Linked DNA regions of Homo sapiens: region 2 is linked to region 1. Evidence: fine-mapped expression QTL. A gene starts in region 1. The other region holds a variant in brackets. All regions are shown on one strand. Distances are between the middles of the regions. Region 1 holds the start of ZBTB5 (zinc finger and BTB domain containing 5). Region 2 overlaps GRHPR (glyoxylate and hydroxypyruvate reductase).

Region 1 (4,385 bases):
GGTCAGGCTGGCCTCGAACTCCTGACCTCGTGATCCACTCTCCTCGGCCTCCGAAAGTGTTGGGATTACAGGCGTGAGCCACCGCGCCTGGCCGCAGGGTTTTATTACTTTCGTTTTGTATCTATAGGAGCCTTAGTCATGAAGGAGCCATGATACATATTTATCAAATTTTTGTAATCTTCTTTAGTTACACATTTAGGTTTGTTGTCCACTTACCCCCCCCCCCCCGCCCCTTGTACTTACAAAGGTGTGGTAAACAGCCTTGGGTTTATTATTCCACATCTTTGTATTTCGGTAGCATATATTTCTAGAAAGGAATTACCATCTAGAAGGGAACAAATGCATATTTTAAATTTTGATAGATACTACGAAGTGATCGTCAAACAGGGCATCAGTGACACCCCCGTCCACAATATAGCGGGTGTCCACTTCCACACACTCCTAAATTCTGAATATACAATTTTTAAAACTTTTGCCAGCCTGTAAATCTGAGGCAATCTAGGTCATGGCATTTACCGTTGAGAGACAGATACGCAAAAGAATCTCTCCTATTGCCTGGCTTACTGTCATCATTCCATATTTTCCTTATTTTACCGATCAATCTGTCAGTAAAATATGTGTGATGGCTATAGTGTCAGCGAATCTTAAGGAAAAGAATTAAACATCAGACTCCACCGAGCCCTTAAAGAAATCCACGCAAACAGGTTGCTTTTTGAAATCAACACTTCCGACCAGTAACTGAAGGGATGGAATCTGCTGTAGGGGTATTCGGTGTGTTCCATTCTTAAAGCGGGGAGTTCCTTTTTTTTCCCCCCAGACGAAATCTCACTCTGTTGCCTAGGCTGGAGTGCAGCGGCACGATCTCAGCTCACTGCAACCTCCGCCTCCCGGGTTCAAGCGATTCTCCTGCCTCAGCCTCCCGAGTAGTTGCCTGGGATTACGGGCGCCCACCACCACGCCCGGCTAATTTTTGTACTTTTAGTAGAGACAGGGTTTCACCATGTTGGCCAGGCTGGTCTCGAACTCCTGATCTCGGGCGATCTGCCCGCCTCAGCCTTCCCAATTGCTGCGATTATAGGCGTGAGCCATCGCGCCCGGCTGGGAGTTCCATTTTTCTGGGAGCTCCTCCAAGACCCTTACCCCCACCCCCAGAAGAACCCAGCTGAGTTCGCGGGCCTGCCTTTGTCTCCAGAGCCACGCAGCGCTCCCAGACACGCTGCGCCGGAGAAGGCAGCTTTCTTCTGCCGTCCTCACCCTAGGAAAGGGGGTTTCTTCCCTGGCCCCAGTGTCCGATGCTCAGGGATCGGGTTCTCCCTCCGAGGGTGCACCTGGAAACCCGAGCGTCGCCCCGGGGCTCGCTTTTTTCAGACCGCGTCCCATACAAGTCCGCGACCCTTCCACGTTTGGGACAGGAGTGGGAGAGCTTAGCGCTTCCTATTTTTTTGTGGGGGGAGTGCAGGTGATTATAAATCTGGGCATGCAGACTACAGGCTTATTTGACCTGCAGCCGAGTGCGGGGCCAAGCGCCGGGCTCCTGGGGCGCCACCGTTTCCAGACGCGCAGCCACCCGGACTGGACGAGGGGCGGGGTCCGACCTAACTGCCATCCGATGGACAGCGTTTTTTATTCGCGGTTTTCACCCTGGACTTTGGCTTAGTTAAACCTAAAGAGCTTTTTGGAATCTTATCTTTCCCAACGTCTATGAAGTGGGAACTCAATCTCCAGCCCTCTACGTGTGTGTGTGTGTGTGTGTTCAGCGAAGGGAATTCACCCCGGAGAAGAGCCCTGGGTCACTAAAGCGCCGGGCACCACGAGGGTGGAAAAATCCTTCAGAACCAGCCAATGGCGGTACGGCCTGCCCTGAGGGCCCGCCTCTCCGGCGCCCTCAGACATCACGCAGTCGTTGTTGTGATTGGCGGATTTAGGCGGAAAGCCCGCTAGCCTAAACCACAGAGGGTTTTGATTGGTTGCAGCGAACAGCCGCATTTCTATAGTCCAAACCTGGAGCAGTTTAGTGATAAATCCCGCCCTAAAAGGCATTTGATAACCGTTTTACATGTTGTAAGGCAAAGGGTGATTGGTCAGAGAGCTCACGGATTCAGTCGGTAGTAAACACAACCAGACTTCAGGGACCGTGGATTGGTCAGTTTTTCCGGGGGCTAAGTAAATTCCTCCAGGTTCCGCGCGCCGGCTGGCTGCACTCCTACCCCGGCCCCGCCCTTCCCATTGCTGATTGGTTGCAGCCCAACTGGGAGAGGCGGAATGGGGCGGAGTAGGCGCTCTTGCATTACGTCACTTCCGCTTATCCTCGGGCGCCGCCGCCGTGTTCTCAGAGTGCTGCGGCGAACTGGCTGGAGGAGCTAGGGGACTAGAGGCGGGGTGGGAGGGGGGCGGGTGGAAGGGGGAGGAAGTCCCGTAACGGAGACGCTGGTCAGGACGTTCCCACCTCCTCTGACACTGCCGAGTCCGATCGGAGAGGGGTCACCGCCTCCTTCAGCGAGGAGGAGGGGGGCGGAGCCCGACTCAGGTGAGGAGACCCCGTCAGCGAGTATCGTGATGGCGGGCGCGCTCACGTGGGGAAGGTTGAGCACCAGGGGCGCGCCAAGGCGTCGGGGAGCGCGCAGACGTGTACTGGTGCCCCCGGACTACTCTGGCTGTCTTTCGGAGGGGAGCATTGTTACCGTTGGAGCCAAGGGGCCAGGCGGGTTCTTCTGCGCAGGCGTCCCCGGTGTCCCGACGCCAGGCTGTCTGCGGGGTGGGGCGGGGGCTGGTACTCCTGTGGATCCCCGGCTGGCGACGTAGGTTCCCGAATGGGGTGGGAAAGGCCTCAGGACCAGCGGCCTGGCGGGATGAAGAGAGGATCTGCTGCCCTGCGGGATGTGGTCGGACGGCTCCCTTGCCCCCATCCTGGGTCTTGAGCGACGAGGTTTCATTTCACCAGAGCAAGGCCATAGGCAGACTGCCATCGGGAGCCAGCGGCCGACCCTGGAGGGGTGGAGCCAGTGTTTCGGAATGCCCCAACTTGTTATGAGAGGACTGAAGTGTTTAATAGGCATTTATTGAATGCCCACTACTCCCAGGCTTCGTGCGAGGAGCTGTGGGGGATGCGGTGGTAAGACACTGCCGTCCCATCTTCTCCTGTTTGGAGGACAGATTTGTATGTAAATAATAAAAGGCAGTGAATTAAGGGGTGTTGAAGGTTAGTTTTTTCCTTTCATAATGGTCATTTTTTTTTAAGTCAGTCAGCATTCTGGCATAGTGAAGGATATTGTGGAAACTAATTTTCTGAACAGAAGGCAAATCCTAAATAATTTGGAGGAAAAATTTTAGGTGAAAGCACAGTAAAGTTGATTACTAAGTAGTATCTTCTGACTCTAGTTAACTTGAATTAATAGAAGGAACTCTTCACCTTCAAAAATTGAAGCAAAAATATTCCAAAACATGTTCTCATATTTTTCACTTGTATTAAGTAGAGGACATTACGGGCTTTTCTTTAGAGGTTGAAGAGAATGCTGTGCCTTAGTCATTAAGTCATTGGTAATTTGTTGTCCTAGTATGGGCTGTTGTGCTTAGATGTAAAAGGCTGGGCAGAACTTGCTTTTCATTTGCCTAAACTCTTGTGATTTCTGTGGGGACGGTGGTTGGCAGTAAGCTAATAGTTCAGAGGGAAAAGTCCAGATGGGAAGAAGACAAGGAATTTTAGAGAAAAGCCCCTAAGCCAAAGGAAACCGTTCACTCTTCCTTTTAACCCTTATGGAAATCTCATCAAATTTGGGAAGATTGACCTGGCCACCACAGCCAGCTTGGTGACCTTACAGGTAAGACTACTTGGGTGGGGACCTGTTTTGGGCCCTTGGGTTTTGCTGAATAAACAGACTCTTTTTTTGAAGAGTCCTGAAGTCAACTCGTTTACTAGAGATTTGCCCCTTTTCCCTAAAAGTTGTGTCAAAACATAACTTTTAGTTAGCTGAGGATGCTGGCAAGCTGGATTTTGGTTAATTGATATGTCTCTAGCAGAATTCTGAAAATGGTAAGATTTGGAGGAAAGGCATCTTACAGACTTAGGAGCGAACGCTCTCAAAAGAGACTCACAAGACTGTCCCCAAAGTGGAAGTAATAAAAAATCACTGGGATATCAAATAGTACTTAAAGAACTCAGCATGAATTATATCGAATTGGAGACTTTAAAATATCTTGTGTTCAGTGAAATTGACAAAACCTGGTGTAGTGCTGACAGAGAATCTTGAATCTGGCTCACATTCGTTTTGGAAATGGAAAAAAGAACCCAAGGTATTGATTCTATGTTAGCTTTCAACTTTTTTTTTAATGTAAATTAATTTTAAATACTTTCCCCCTCTGTCAGTTTTAAGCGTGTGATTTTTCTT
Region 2 (4,385 bases), 34 kb after region 1:
CTCAAAAGTATGAGAATTGGCCGGACACTCATGCCTGTAATCCCAGCACTTTGGGAGGCAGAGGCAGGTGGACCATCTGAGGTCAGGAATTCGAGACCAGCCTGGCCAACATGGACAAACCCCATCTCTACTAAAAATACAAAAATTGGCTGGGCCTGGTGGTACACGCCTGTAATCCCAGCTACTCGGGAAGCTGAGGCAGGAGAATCGCTTGAACCCAGGAGGCAGGGGTTGCAGTGAGTTCAGATTGCACCACTGCACTCCAGCCTGGGCGACAGAGCGAGACTCTGTCTCAAAAAAAAAAAAAAAAAAAAAAATGTGAGAACCACTGCACTGTGGTAGCACAGAGGTAGCAACTGCCAGAGGCACTTCTGGTGCTGCAACTCAGACTTCGGTGGCACGGGCACTGACTGGCTGTTGCTCTTGTCTCTGAGCAGGGCTCAATGGGGCTGGTTCACCAAGTGTTGGAAAAACTGCAAACTGGATTCCCCAGCCACTATGGGAAGGAACTGGTGCTGCTAGATGAAGAAGTGCTGCTGCCACTCCCCCAAAGACAGGAAGGGAGGGCAGGAGGGAGCAGGCCCTTCCACACCCACGCTGACAAGGCCTGCCAGTGCAGCTGGCACAGCAGAAATGGGGTGTGCAGAGGCCTGGCCCCAGCCCCACAAAGCAGAAGAGAGAAGGGGGCTTTGTTGTGAAACAACAGCTTGAAAAACTGGCACGAGTTATATTGGCATTGTCATTACACTTTTAATTTTTCACAGCTAAACTGGTAATAGCAATTTATAGTAACAGGTTTTACACGAGTCACTGTGGTGTAACACATGGAGACATGTAGTCAGCCCACTTTGTTGTTGTTGTTGTTTTGGAGATGGAGTCTCACTCTGCCACCCAGGCTGGAGTGCAGTGGCACAATCTCGGCCTACTGCAACCTGTGCCTCCTGGGTTCAAGCGATTCTTCTGCCTCAGCCTCCCAAACAGCTGGGACTATAGGCATGCACCACCATACCTGGCTAATTTTTGTATTTTTAGTAGAGATGGGGTTTCACCATATCGGCCAGGTTGGTCTCGAACCCCTGACCTCGTGATCCACCCACCTCAGCCTCCCAAAGTGCTGGGATTACAGGCATGAGCCACCACGCCTGGCCCACTCTTTTTTTTTAAACAAATCCACTCACACCTACATTCTGTTCCTTTAGGGACAGAGACCCAGCAGAGCATGCGCAAGAGGACTGCTCCTGTCATACACCCATGTCACTGACAACATAAACATTTACGATCCCTGGTGTGTCCCTTTGGGTTCAACACCTGCTCACACTAGCTCCACACCCGGCCCCTTGGGACCCCCTCAAAAACACTGGTCCTGCAGGGCAGCAGGGAGTTTGCATCAGAAAGTGCAGTTCTTACCACAGTTCTTCAGGGTCAGGAGAGGGTGGTTTGTAGGCAGTGGTTCTGGGCTCGTCACATCCAGTCCAGCAGCTGCAATCTTACCACTGGCCAAGGCCTGGTACAGGTCGTCCTGGTTTACGACGTCGCCCCTGGGAATGACAGTGGTGACATGGGTACCCCGAAGATCCCTCCGCCCAGGCCACCTTTGAGGCAGAACAACCTACAGAATGAATTTTTCCACTCACTTGGCACTGACTTTTAAAGCAGTAAGTCTTAGGTATACTTACAGTATGTCTGTAAGTCTTATATACTCAGAGAACTCCAGCCCTGCCTCCTTCTAGCTGTGTGACCTTGGGCAAGTGTCTCAAATTCTCTGTGCCTCGAATTATCTGTGTCTCAAATTATCTACTCTGTGAGATAAGGAGAATACCACCTAACTCCCAGGCATGTTGGGAGGATTAAAGCTTTCTTACATGCTCTACTGCATGAACAGGGCCCAGAAGGGCATCTGTGTTAGGCCCCATCCAAGTGTTTCTGATCTGGTTGACCCCCAGACCCCCACTGAGAAGCACCACAGTGTGCTATCAGGTACCTGTCTAAACCAGGGCAGAGGAACGAGCACACCCCTAACCACAGCCATCAAAGGGAGCGGCGACTGAAGGCAAGAAGTCATCTTCTAGAGACTGTATATTGTGCACTAAGTAATACTTGTGCACTAATGAGTAATACACGGTCCTGGGCTGTCCTGGGTACA[T/C]GCAGGCACCCAGTACACGGCAGCTGTGACTGCTGCCAGCCAGCAGTGCGAGCCCTGTGGTCCTGCATGTTTCACTCTTCCATTCCCAGGTCACCTGTTTTGTAGCTAAATGTTGGTAATTACAGGTACCTTTGGGGTGGACGAGTCCTCAGGATGACCTCACCCAATCCCCCTTCCCCTAAACTGATGTAAACAGGCTCAAGGGGCACCAGCTAGGAAGGGCTTGGAGTGGCAGAGAAGGAAGGTCTGACCTCCATACATGCCCAGTGGCCTGAAGGCACCCCTAGGGACAGTGTGAGGAGCTACGACCACGTGAGTTTTAGGGTCTGTCCGCCCAGGAGCATAAGGTTCAAAGTATCACTGAACCACAGCCAGACAAAGCCAGGCTCAGCAGTGTGGGAGGCGGCCTCCAGAGGGCCCTTCAGATCCTCAAGTCCAGCCCTTTGTGGTGGAGGATAATGGGCCTGCAGAGGCTCCCTGGGAACACTCCCTGAAGCCACGCTGCTGTGTGCCAGGCCCCGCCGGGTGGGGGCCACTGCTGAGAAGCAGACAGGCCAGGCCCACTCTGACGGCTCTTCTTCCCTGTACGGAGGTCTCGTGTATTCCCACGAATTTCTGAGTTGGTTGTTTGGTTTATGGAAACCAGCAAGCTCAGCCTGGGGTCTCACCAACAACCCACGGGGAAGAAAATCTCCAGATGGCAGCAGTGGGGATGGCTCCTCTCCAGGCTTGCTGGGTAAGGTGGCCCTAGGATACCTGCTGATGTTGATGAACACAGCTGTTTCCTTCATCTTCTGGAAGAAGTCCTTGTTGCAGAGTCCCTCGGTTGCAGGTGTTAAGGAGCAGGCCACGACGATGAAATCAGATTGGGCAGCCAGCTCAGGGGTAGACACTGAGGGAGGGCAGGACTCCATCAGGCACTGAGTCCCAGGCTAGGGACAACCAGATGGCGGGAGACCAGCCCCTTGCTCCCGACTCCCTAACAGAAACTCCCAAGATGCTTCCTGAAGGCCGAGTCTCTACCTGGACAACTCTCATGAGTGCACAAAGTCAAATCACACACAGTGGGATCTGGACCACTCTGGCTTTAACTACCTTCAGGGCCCAAAGTGCCCAGGGGCGTGGGGAATGCTTGAGATCCAGCCTGCCATCTGCTCACCAGGCTGTGGACCCGCCAGGTGCTGGATCCGCCTGGACTAAGGGGCGCACACAAAGGCTAGGGTAGTGCTTGCCAGTTTATGAAGGAAAAGACAGTGAAAGTGCCCAGCCCTTCCTCACACCCACCACCATCCCCGCTGCTCCGCCCACAATGGGGAATGGTAACAAAGGACTCTGAAAGACGGGAGCCCTGGACTGCTCTGCTGGCTCGGAGAGGACCTGGGTAAGTCCCTGTGCTCCCTGAGTGGGCCAGTGTCCAGGGGCAGGTAGATTAAACATCTACCAGACAGCAGCCCCTGGACATGCCTGGAGCTCCTGCCCTCTGCCTGAAAATGCCACCATTGAGAGAAAATACAGCCTCTCAACTGGGCACAGATAGGCTCCTGTGGAAATCAAGGCTTCACTTACCAAACTCTGCCTGGAATTCTGCTGCTTCCTCAGGCCTGGGCTGGCGCCCTGTGTACAGAAATCTCTGGACACCGAATGGTTTCAGACGCCGAGCAATGGCCTGGCCTAGAGCAAGGAGAGTCCATGTCTCGTTCCCAGTCCCGCAAAGGGTAGGGACACCACCCAGCATTTCTGGAACAGCGGCCCTCAGGGCAGACCCTTTTCATCAGCACAGCCCGAGTTGCCTGCTCCTGTCTCCTCCAAAGCGGGTGGGGGGCTGGCTGCCCCACTGTAACTAGCCCCCAGCCAGCCCACACTGCCCCAGGGATCTGGAGACAGCACCTCAGCTCCCCTGAGGCTGTGACTGGCTGATGCTGTCCTCACATGGTCCAAGCCATCTGGAAAGCCACTCAGGTTTTTCCTAACCTCTGAGAACTGGAGAGGTTTTCACAAGGGAGACACCTGGTCAAGCAGTCCCCTCCTTTGTCCTGGACCCTCTGCTTCTGTGAATGCAGTCTCAGACCCCATTTGACTTTTTGGTGGCACTGCCAAACTGCCAGCTCACCCCAAACTTACAATTTTCATGTAAGCTGCTGCTGAGACAGATTTGTACAGTTGGATTTTCAGGCTCAGAACGTGCCCCAAAGCTGTTGGGTTCCTCCAAGCAACTCTCTAGTGAGAGGCAGGGCTGTTCGTT

What was found. PIP is the estimated chance that this variant, and not a neighbour inherited with it, causes the effect.
Region 2: its variant is fine-mapped to the expression of ZBTB5 in whole blood (INTERVAL, PIP above 0.99).

The regions. Positions count from the first base shown.
Region 1 is chr9:37,463,357-37,467,741 of GRCh38, reverse strand. It overlaps ZBTB5 (zinc finger and BTB domain containing 5), which reads left to right and starts at 2,292. Exons shown (of 2, transcript NM_014872.3): 1 at 2,292-2,527. RefSeq lists enhancers at 627-1,312, 1,313-1,998, 1,999-2,684, 2,685-3,370 and a silencer at 2,365-2,464.
Region 2 is chr9:37,429,161-37,433,545 of GRCh38, reverse strand. GRHPR (glyoxylate and hydroxypyruvate reductase) reads right to left here. Exons shown (of 9, transcript NM_012203.2): 6 at 3,710-3,814; 7 at 2,900-3,035; 8 at 1,408-1,538. Among named protein-coding and RNA genes, the nearest start is that of GRHPR, 8.7 kb to the right of the region's middle. The variant T/C (reference allele first, on the strand shown) is at 2,144.